Regions from separate parts of the Homo sapiens genome. Here region 2 is linked to region 1. A link means that fine-mapping ties the variant in region 1 to the expression of a gene that starts in the linked region. Tissue or cell type: visceral fat. Region 1 holds a variant in brackets; the other region holds the start of a gene. All regions are shown on one strand. Distances are from middle to middle.

Region 1 (4,204 bases):
CAGCCTCCGGCATGCGCTACCACACCCGGCTACTTTTTGTATTTTCAGTAGAGATGGGGTTTCTCCATGTTAGTCAGGCTAGTCTCGAACTCCCAACCTCAGGTGATCTGCCCGCCTCGGCCTCCCAAAGTGCTGGGATTACAGGCATGAGCCACAGTGCCCAGCAATAGTTTTCTTAAGTAAACTGAATCACATTTCATTTATGGGGGGAGCTGGCTAATAAAGGGGCCCTCAGGAAACCCTTTGGCTCTCGTGAAGACTGCTGTGCCAGGATTTCTTTGGTCCCAGTATGCTAAGACCCTGGTCAGTCAGCACAATTGTCTCACCAGCACCTGTGCAAATAAGGAGGCATGGTGATTTCTAGATAATCCAACATGGTAGGTATTTCAAAAAGTATTTCCACCTGCCAGAAATGTACGTCATGCTATGCTCAGGAAGGTGAAACAACCAGGCTTGGTTTGTTTCTGGCTTTTGAGAGACAGCACCTAGAAACTCACATATCTCTCTTCCTCTGCTGCTCTTTGCTTTCTGCTGATTCACCTATGCCCCTCACCTGCCACCTCAGTCCCCTTCAGGGTTGGCCCCTGCCCTCCACATTCCTCTTACTTCTCCTCGCTCTCCTCAGTGATGGCTCATTTTCGTGCTCAGAGACTCCCAAACCATGGGTAGTCCCGGCCTCCTCCCTGAGTACCAGTCCTGTATCACCATGTGTCCACCCAGCAGTGCAATTGCTCGTCCAACTCTCTGACATCTAAACTCCACCACTGAAGCCATTCTCGACACCTCCACTCCTACAACCAAGTGCTTATTCCCCTGTGCTTAGCAAAGCCCCTGCTTTCAACCAGTGCTGCCTGAGCTCCCACTACATGCCCCACACTGCCCTCATAGGTTCCAGAGATTCCATTAGTTAGCCATGTGCTGGGCACCGTACTGACCCTCACATGCAATATCACACATCAGCCTCACTGCAACACAGAGCTCGGTGTTATCTATCGACTCTGTACAGAGAAGAAAACACACCCAGGAGCACAGAATCACTTTTGCCCTTCTCCACTGCAATCCTAGGTCATCGTAGCCTCTGGCCTCACTCCTTGTGCCTGGTTTCCTGCAATAGCTTCCTCTTGGTCAGTCTCCCTACCCATCCCCAGCCTGACCCTCTTGGCAGAGGTAACAGATACGCCTTACTAAATACCGCTGTGATGAGAACCTTTCAGTGTTTCTGATACAAACCTCTCTCCTGTGCTCTTGACCTATGTACCCATCTGTCTTTAGAGCCGCTGTCTCTGAGTGTCTCATGGGCTTCTCACATTCAATATGTCTAGGGTGGGCCTCATAACCCTCTCCTCACCCCACCAAATTCCCTGATCAAGTTAGGCACCCAGAAAGCACCTGCTCCTTTTGTCAGGCCAATCACCGGGTCCTACTGGTTCCACCTTCTAAAACCCTAAAAACAAAACTAAACTCCTAGAAATCCTTATCATCCCTCCATTTCCACCGGCACCGCCCAGGCCAGGCCCTGGTGAGGCCAGGCCCTGATCAGTCCCTCTCCTTGGAACATTAATAAGCCTAGGAGATGATGCCCTCTACCGCCACTCTTTTCACCCTGAAATTCATACACCGCAGCACAACAAAGTGGTCCACTCCAACCATGTTACGACCCTGCTGAAAACTCTTCAAAGCTTTTCAGTGCCTGTAGGTTAAAGTCGAATCTTCTCAGAAAATCCCATCCGAAATTTGACTGTTTCTTCCTCTAACCTCTTTTCCTGCGACAATCCAGGCTGCAGCCACCCCAACTTCTTCCTGTTTCTATAATATGCTATGTTTCTGCACATAATATTTCTTGTGCTTGAAATACTCTTCACCTACAGCTGGCTAAGAAAATCTACTCTTTCTTTAAGACCCAAGTCAAGGGCTAGCTACAATGGTTCGCGCCTATAATCCCAGCACTTTGGGAAGCCACGGTGGGAGGATCACTTGAGCCCAGGAGTTTGAGACCAGCCTGGGCAACATAGGGAGACCCGTCTCTACAAACAAACGCAAAAATTAGCCAGATGTAATGGCTCGTGTCAGTACTCCCAGCTACTTGGGAGACTGAGGTGGGAGAATCACTTGAGCCTGGGTGGTCAAGGCTGCAGTGAGCCATGATGACACCACTGCACTCCAGCCTGGACGACGGAGAAGACTTTGCCTAAAAAAAAGAAATAAATAAGCCCCGTCCGGGGGGGAAGTGGGGGGATCAGCCCCCCGTCCGGCCAGCCGCCCCGTCCGGCAGGTGAGGGGCGCCTCTGCCCGGCCGCCCCTACTGGGAAGTGAGGAGCCCCTCTGCCCGGCCAGCCGCTCTGTCCGGGAGGGAGGTGGGGGGGGTCAGCCCCCCGCCCGGCCAGCCGCCCCGTCCAGGAGGGAGGTGGG[G/C]GGGTCAGCCCCCCGCCCGGCCAGCTGCCCCGTCCGGGAGGGAGGTGGGGGGGGTCAGCCCCCCGCCTGGCCAGCCGCCCCGTCCGGGAGGTGAGGGGTGCCTCTGCCCTGCCGCCCCTACTGGGAAGTGAGGAGCCCCTCTGCCCGGCCAGCCGCCCGTCCGGGAGGTAGGTGGGGGGGTCAGCCCCCCACCCGGCCAGCCGCCCCGTCCGGGAGGGAGGTGGAGGGGTCAGCCCCCCGCCGGGCCAGCCGCCCCGTCCGGGAGGTGAGGGGCGCCTCTGCCCGGCCGCCCCTACTGGGAAGTGAGGAGCCCCTCTGCCCGGCCACCACCCGTCTGGGAGGTGTACCCAACAGCTCATTGAGAACGGGCCATGATGACAATGGCGGTTTTGTAGAATAGAAAGGGGGGAAAGGTGGGGAAAAGATTGAGAAATCGGATGGTTGCCGTGTCTGTGTAGAAAGAGGTAGACATGGGAGACTTTTCATTTTGTTCTGTACTAAGAAAAATTCTTCTGCCTTGGGATCCTGTTGATCGGTGACCTTACCCCCAACCCTGTGCTCTCTGAAACATGTGCTGTATCCACTCAGGGTTGAATGGATTAAGGGCGGTGCAAGATGTGCTTTGTTAAACAGATGCCTGAAGGCAGCATGCTCCTTGGGAGTCATCACCACTCCCTAATCTCAAGTACCCAGGGACACAAACACTGCGGAAGGCCGCAGGGTCCTCTGCCTAGGAAAACCAGAGACCTTTGTTCACTTGTTTATCTGCTGACCTTCCCTCCACTATTGTCCTGTGACCCTGCCAAATCCCCCTCTGCGAGAAACACCCAAGAATGATCAATAAAAAAAAAAAATTAGAAAAAAAAAAAAAGAAAAATAAATAAATTAGCCAGACATGGTGGTGTGCGCCTGTAGTCCCAGCTACTCAGGAGGTTGAAATAGAGGATCATTTGAGCCCAGGAGTTTGAGGTTACAGTGAGCTATGATCACACCACTGCACTTCAGCCCAGGTCTCTAAAAAAAAAAAAAAAAAAAAAAAGAAAGAAAGAATTAAAAAAAAAAGATCCAGGTCAATACACATTTGTCTCTGTTCTAAACAAAGGAGAGCTAGCCTTCCTCTTTTGTGCCAACTCTAGAAATGTACATTCTATTATTAATTATCTTATTGAATCTCTATTGCATCTGTGTTAACATGTCTGTTTCCTGACTTGACTGTGAAATATCCAAAAGTGAGGACAATGCCTCATTCATCTCTCTATATCCAGCTGCTTACATGGCTCCTGGCTCAGAAAAAAAGGCATTCTCCTGTTTGTTGAGTGAATAATAAAAATAACACTTTGCATATACTGAGCACTTAGGGTGTGCCTGGCTCTTTACGCCCATTGTTCCTTTACCCGCCACTGCTACATTGTGAATGGATATTACTATCACTCCCTTTTAGAGCTGAAGAAACCAAGACTCAGAAAGTAGGAGTAACTTGGCCAAGGTCACACTGCTAGTTAGTGACAGTCAAAATTTGAACCCAAATCTGTCTGGTGAAAACTTCCAGTGGGCTACGTGCTTAGCCTGGAAGTCAAGACTTCTAGAAACTGATTCTAATCTAAGGTTCTGATCTTATCTACCATAAAACACAACCAACTTTGTCTCTTCATCATGTCCTGACCCACTCAATTCACATCCCCTGTATTCCTCATGTAGGCTACTCTCCTGGTGGGAAAGCCCTGCCCTTTCCTTTCCACCTCTATAACTCACACTCAGTCATCCTTCTTCAAGGTCTGGCCAAGTCCCACCTCCT
Region 2 (4,204 bases), 110 kb before region 1:
CAAAAGGAAATGTAAAGCTTATTTGGCAGCTCAAGCTGATGAAGCTAAACATATCAGTTACTAAAACAAAGTCTGCACATATTTACACCAAACTGTAAACAGTAGTGTAACTCACTGGTTGATGAGTATATGAGGGATCTTTATTTTCATTTCAATATGTTCTGAATTTTTGAGGAAGTGTGTAAATTATTTCATAATTAGAAAATAAATGAAATTTTTAAAAAAATCATCCATGCACTTCAGCAAGTCTCCATGGAACCTTTATTTGTTGTCCAAATCAGTTCCAAAGAGCCTCTAAAGAAGGGTTCCAGACTACCAGGAGCTCACTGGAAATAAGACCAACTGGACCATAATAGAAGAATGCAGGTCATGGCTGGGTGCCGCAACTCACACCACTTTGGGAGGCCAAGGCAGGCAGATCACCTGAGGTCAGGAGTTTGAGAAGAATGCAGGACAGTGTAAAGATGAGATTCCACTGACAACTCTGAGCCCTAGTTGTAGGCAGGAATAAGTGAAGAGAGCCCGCTGGAGGAGGAGTATTTGGACTGTGCCCATTCCACACAGTATGTGGCCTAAGGGTGAGCCTGGAGACAGCATTCCAGGCTGGAGGTCCAACATAAGCAAGGGTGGGAACTGAGAAAGCATGTACAGGGCATGTGGTGGAAGCAGTGGATGACTCAAGGTGCAGAGCCCAGGGAGGCAAAGAAGTTGGCTTGGTAAGCCATGTGGAGGGGCAGCGGGAAGAGTCGGTGAAGCAAAAAGAAGCAGATGGGAGGGGCATTTATGCCTCAAATGGAGAGTTTTATGCCCAAAGCTCATAAGAGCAAACACCTGGGTTGCCATCACTGCTGCACTGCACATATACGCATGCACACATGTACACACATGCACTTGTGCAAACACATGTGCACACATACACAGACATGTGCACACACCCACATATACATACACTTCTTTTTTTTCTTTTCTTTTTTTTTTTTTTTTTGAGATAAGAGTCTTTCTCTGTCAACCAGGCTGGAGGGCAGTGGTGCAATCTCAGCTTGCTGCAACCTCTGCCTCCTGGGTTCAAGAGATTCTCCTGCCTCAGCCTCCCAAGTAGCTGGAATTACAGCTGTGCACCACGACCATGCTCAGCTAACTTTTGTATTTTTAGTAGAGATGGGTTTTTGCCATGTTGGCCAAGCTGGTCTTGAACTCTTGACCTCAAGTGATCCCCCCACCTCGGCCTCCCAAAGTGCTGGGATTACAGGCATGAGCCACCACGCCCGGCCATGCACACACACTTTTTAACTGCTTTGTGTTCTCTGGCCCTTTCGCCTACAGAATTAGCTATCGAGACCAAGGGGGTTCTCTTGGCCTCGGTCCAGCCTTTCCTGAACCCCACACCCTGCATCAGCACACACTGCTGTCCACTCACCTGCCCTAGTAAGTCACCACTAGCTGTTGTTGACTGGGAGCCCCTTGGCTTTTAAGCAGGATTTGACCCAAGGGCTCGCAGTGCGTGGTGGGTCCAGGGGCAGGAGTTGAGGCAGAAAGACAAGGGCAGGGACAGCTGTGGAGTGGGGGAGGTGGGAGAGAGAAATCCTTAGGAGGCAAAACTAGCCAGGCTTGGCCCCTGGTGGATTTGGGAGGCAGGGAGCAGGAGGCGTGAACCAAGACGCTGGGTTCCAGGCCAGACACTGTGACATGAGAGGCCATAGCTGAGGTGGGGCTCTGCAGGAGGCATAGATTTGGGGAGGGGACAGAGATCTCAGGGTGGCATTGGGCACACCGAACCTGGGGAGTCTGTGGGGTGTCTGTTGATGCTGGGAAGCTCCACCGAGGACTCAGGACAGGGTAACAGCAAAGCGGGCACAGGACGCCAACCACAGCAGGTGAGTGGAGGCAGGAGCCACGGGTGGGGCCAGGCCACACAGCCTGGGAGGCGCAGGGGCTGGGCAGCTGCCAGTGACCCAAGCCCACACAGAGACTTGCACAGCTGCCCCAGCCCCAAATTAGGGGGATCCCCTGGCCCACCTTCTCTTGGCTCAGCCACTCTGGGAGGTGGGCACACAGGGGCACCGAAGGGAGCAGGCAGCCCTGGCATCCCACAGCCGCCAGGAGAAAAACTTAGGCCTCCCCAAGACCTGGCACAGAGCAGGCCGGCCCTGGCCCCCAAGCAGAGGAGGCTGCACCTCCCTCGCGTCTGTGCCTGCCTCAACGCGGGTTAAACTTTGACCAAGGAAATGATTGCTAAACTCGATTCCATAAGTGTCACCGGTCACACTTTAATTCCAGTCTAAAATTAAAGTCTTCAGTCTCCACATTCCCTACTTTCCAAATTCAGCTTTCCCGGGAGGTCTGGAGCAGCTGCCTCTCTGGGGAGATGCTGGAGGTCTCGGAATCACCTCACGCGGCCTCAGGGCCCAGTTGGAGCCACCCCAAGTGACACCAGCAGGCAGATGACCAGAGAGCCTGAGCCTCCGGCCCCGAGTCTGTGAAGCCTAGCCGCTGGGCTGGAGAAGCCACTGTGGGCACCACCGTGGGGGAAACAGGCCCGTTGCCCTGGCCTCTTTGCCCTGGGCCAGCCTTTGTGAAGTGGGCCCCTCTTCTGGGCCCCTTGAGTAGGTTCCATGGCATTTTCTGAACTCCTGGACCTCGTGGGTGGCCTGGGCAGGTTCCAGGTTCTCCAGACGATGGCTCTGATGGTCTCCATCATGTGGCTGTGTACCCAGAGCATGCTGGAGAACTTCTCGGCCGCCGTGCCCAGCCACCGCTGCTGGGCACCCCTCCTGGACAACAGCACGGCTCAGGCCAGCATCCTAGGGAGCTTGAGTCCTGAGGCCCTCCTGGCTATTTCCATCCCGCCGGGCCCCAACCAGAGGCCCCACCAGTGCCGCCGCTTCCGCCAGCCACAGTGGCAGCTCTTGGACCCCAATGCCACGGCCACCAGCTGGAGCGAGGCCGACACGGAGCCGTGTGTGGATGGCTGGGTCTATGACCGCAGCATCTTCACCTCCACAATCGTGGCCAAGGTAGGGCCTCCCCCAGAGCCACTCGAGTCCCACCACCTTGGAGGTCAGTCATGGATCACGGTGGGTCAGACTCAAAGGTCCAGTCCTGGGAGGGACCCACCTCCCCAGGCCCCACTCACTCTCGAGCCTCTCAGCCCCTCGTCAGCCACACACAGGGAAGTGGGCGGCAGGGATCAGTCTACAAATGGGGCCAGCCCAGGCTCTTGGAGGTGCGGGGGGCACCTGGGCGGGCACCTCTAAATGCTGGCACCTGGACACTCACCGGCCTCACCCTGTCCTGGCCCTGCTGACCTGTCAGCCGTGACTCCAGGCAACTCAGCAGCAGGGGGACTCAGTGACAATTCACTGGATTCCCCGAGACCAAAGCACACAGAGTAAGGGATTACCCCAGGCTGCCTCCCAGATGGGGCGCCAGGCAAAGCCAGGCAAGCAGAGAGGGGCAGCTCATCCCAACAAGTGGGAAGAACCTCTTTATAAAGAACAGGAGGGAAGCAACCTCTGGGAGAGGGGTGAGGGTGTCAGCTTGGGTGGCTGCTTCCAAGTGGAGAGACAGGAGAGAGGGGCAGATGTGGCTAGAGACCCATTGGGCAATAGGGAGCCATGGAAGAGTTCAGGCAGAGGGTGGCAGGATATACTCCTCAAAAGGCCAAACTATGCCTGTGGGTGCCCTCACTGTTCCACAGGGTCTTGCTCTAAAACCCTAGAGGTCACCAGACCACCCACCGCACCCAGCTCCCTGGGGGCCCTCCCATGCGGTTCCTCTGCCTCTCTGCTGGGGCTCTCCCAACCTCCTGAGCTCAGCCTCCTCCTCTCCCATCAGTGGAACCTCGTGTGTGACTCTCATGCTCTGAAGCCCATGGCCCAGTCCATCTACCTGGCTGGGATTCTGGTGGGAGCTGCTGCGTGCGGCCCTGCCTCAGACAGGTGAGTACCCCCAGTCCAGGCAGGTCCCAGTTCCCCTCACAACCCCTGCTCTCCTAGGACCCTGGCCGACTGGCCCCAAACCAGCCTCACAAAACCAAGTCTAGAAAGCGCCCTACTTGCTGGGTGTGGGTCTCGGACCAGCCACCCTGCAGCCGTGCCAGGTAGGGAGGTCTGGAACCTTCTCTGAACCTCGAGTTCACCAACTTTACTCTGGGGGTTGTAGAGGATTTCTGCTCCCCAGCAAACATTCACTGCTAAAACTGGCT

Alleles and levels. Alleles are on the strand shown, and positions count from the first base shown. SD is a standard deviation of normalised expression in the study named.
For the expression in visceral fat of the gene that starts at base 2,276 in region 2, C is the high allele of the variant in region 1 and G is the other (moderate effect, 0.69 SD a copy in GTEx).

What was found. PIP is the estimated chance that this variant, and not a neighbour inherited with it, causes the effect. A credible set is the group of variants that fine-mapping cannot tell apart.
Region 2: it holds the start of SLC22A12, and the variant in region 1 is the best candidate, but not a certain one, in a credible set for the expression of SLC22A12 in visceral fat (GTEx, PIP 0.79).

What each region holds. Positions count from the first base shown.
Region 1 is chr11:64,699,547-64,703,750 of GRCh38, forward strand. All of the region lies in intron 2 of NRXN2 (neurexin 2), which reads right to left. Among named protein-coding and RNA genes, the nearest start is that of NRXN2, 22 kb to the right of the region's middle. The variant G/C (reference allele first, on the strand shown) is at 2,410.
Region 2 is chr11:64,588,945-64,593,148 of GRCh38, forward strand. SLC22A12 (solute carrier family 22 member 12) reads left to right here and starts at 2,276. Exons shown (of 10, transcript NM_144585.4): 1 at 2,276-3,014; 2 at 3,835-3,938. The coding sequence starts at 2,613.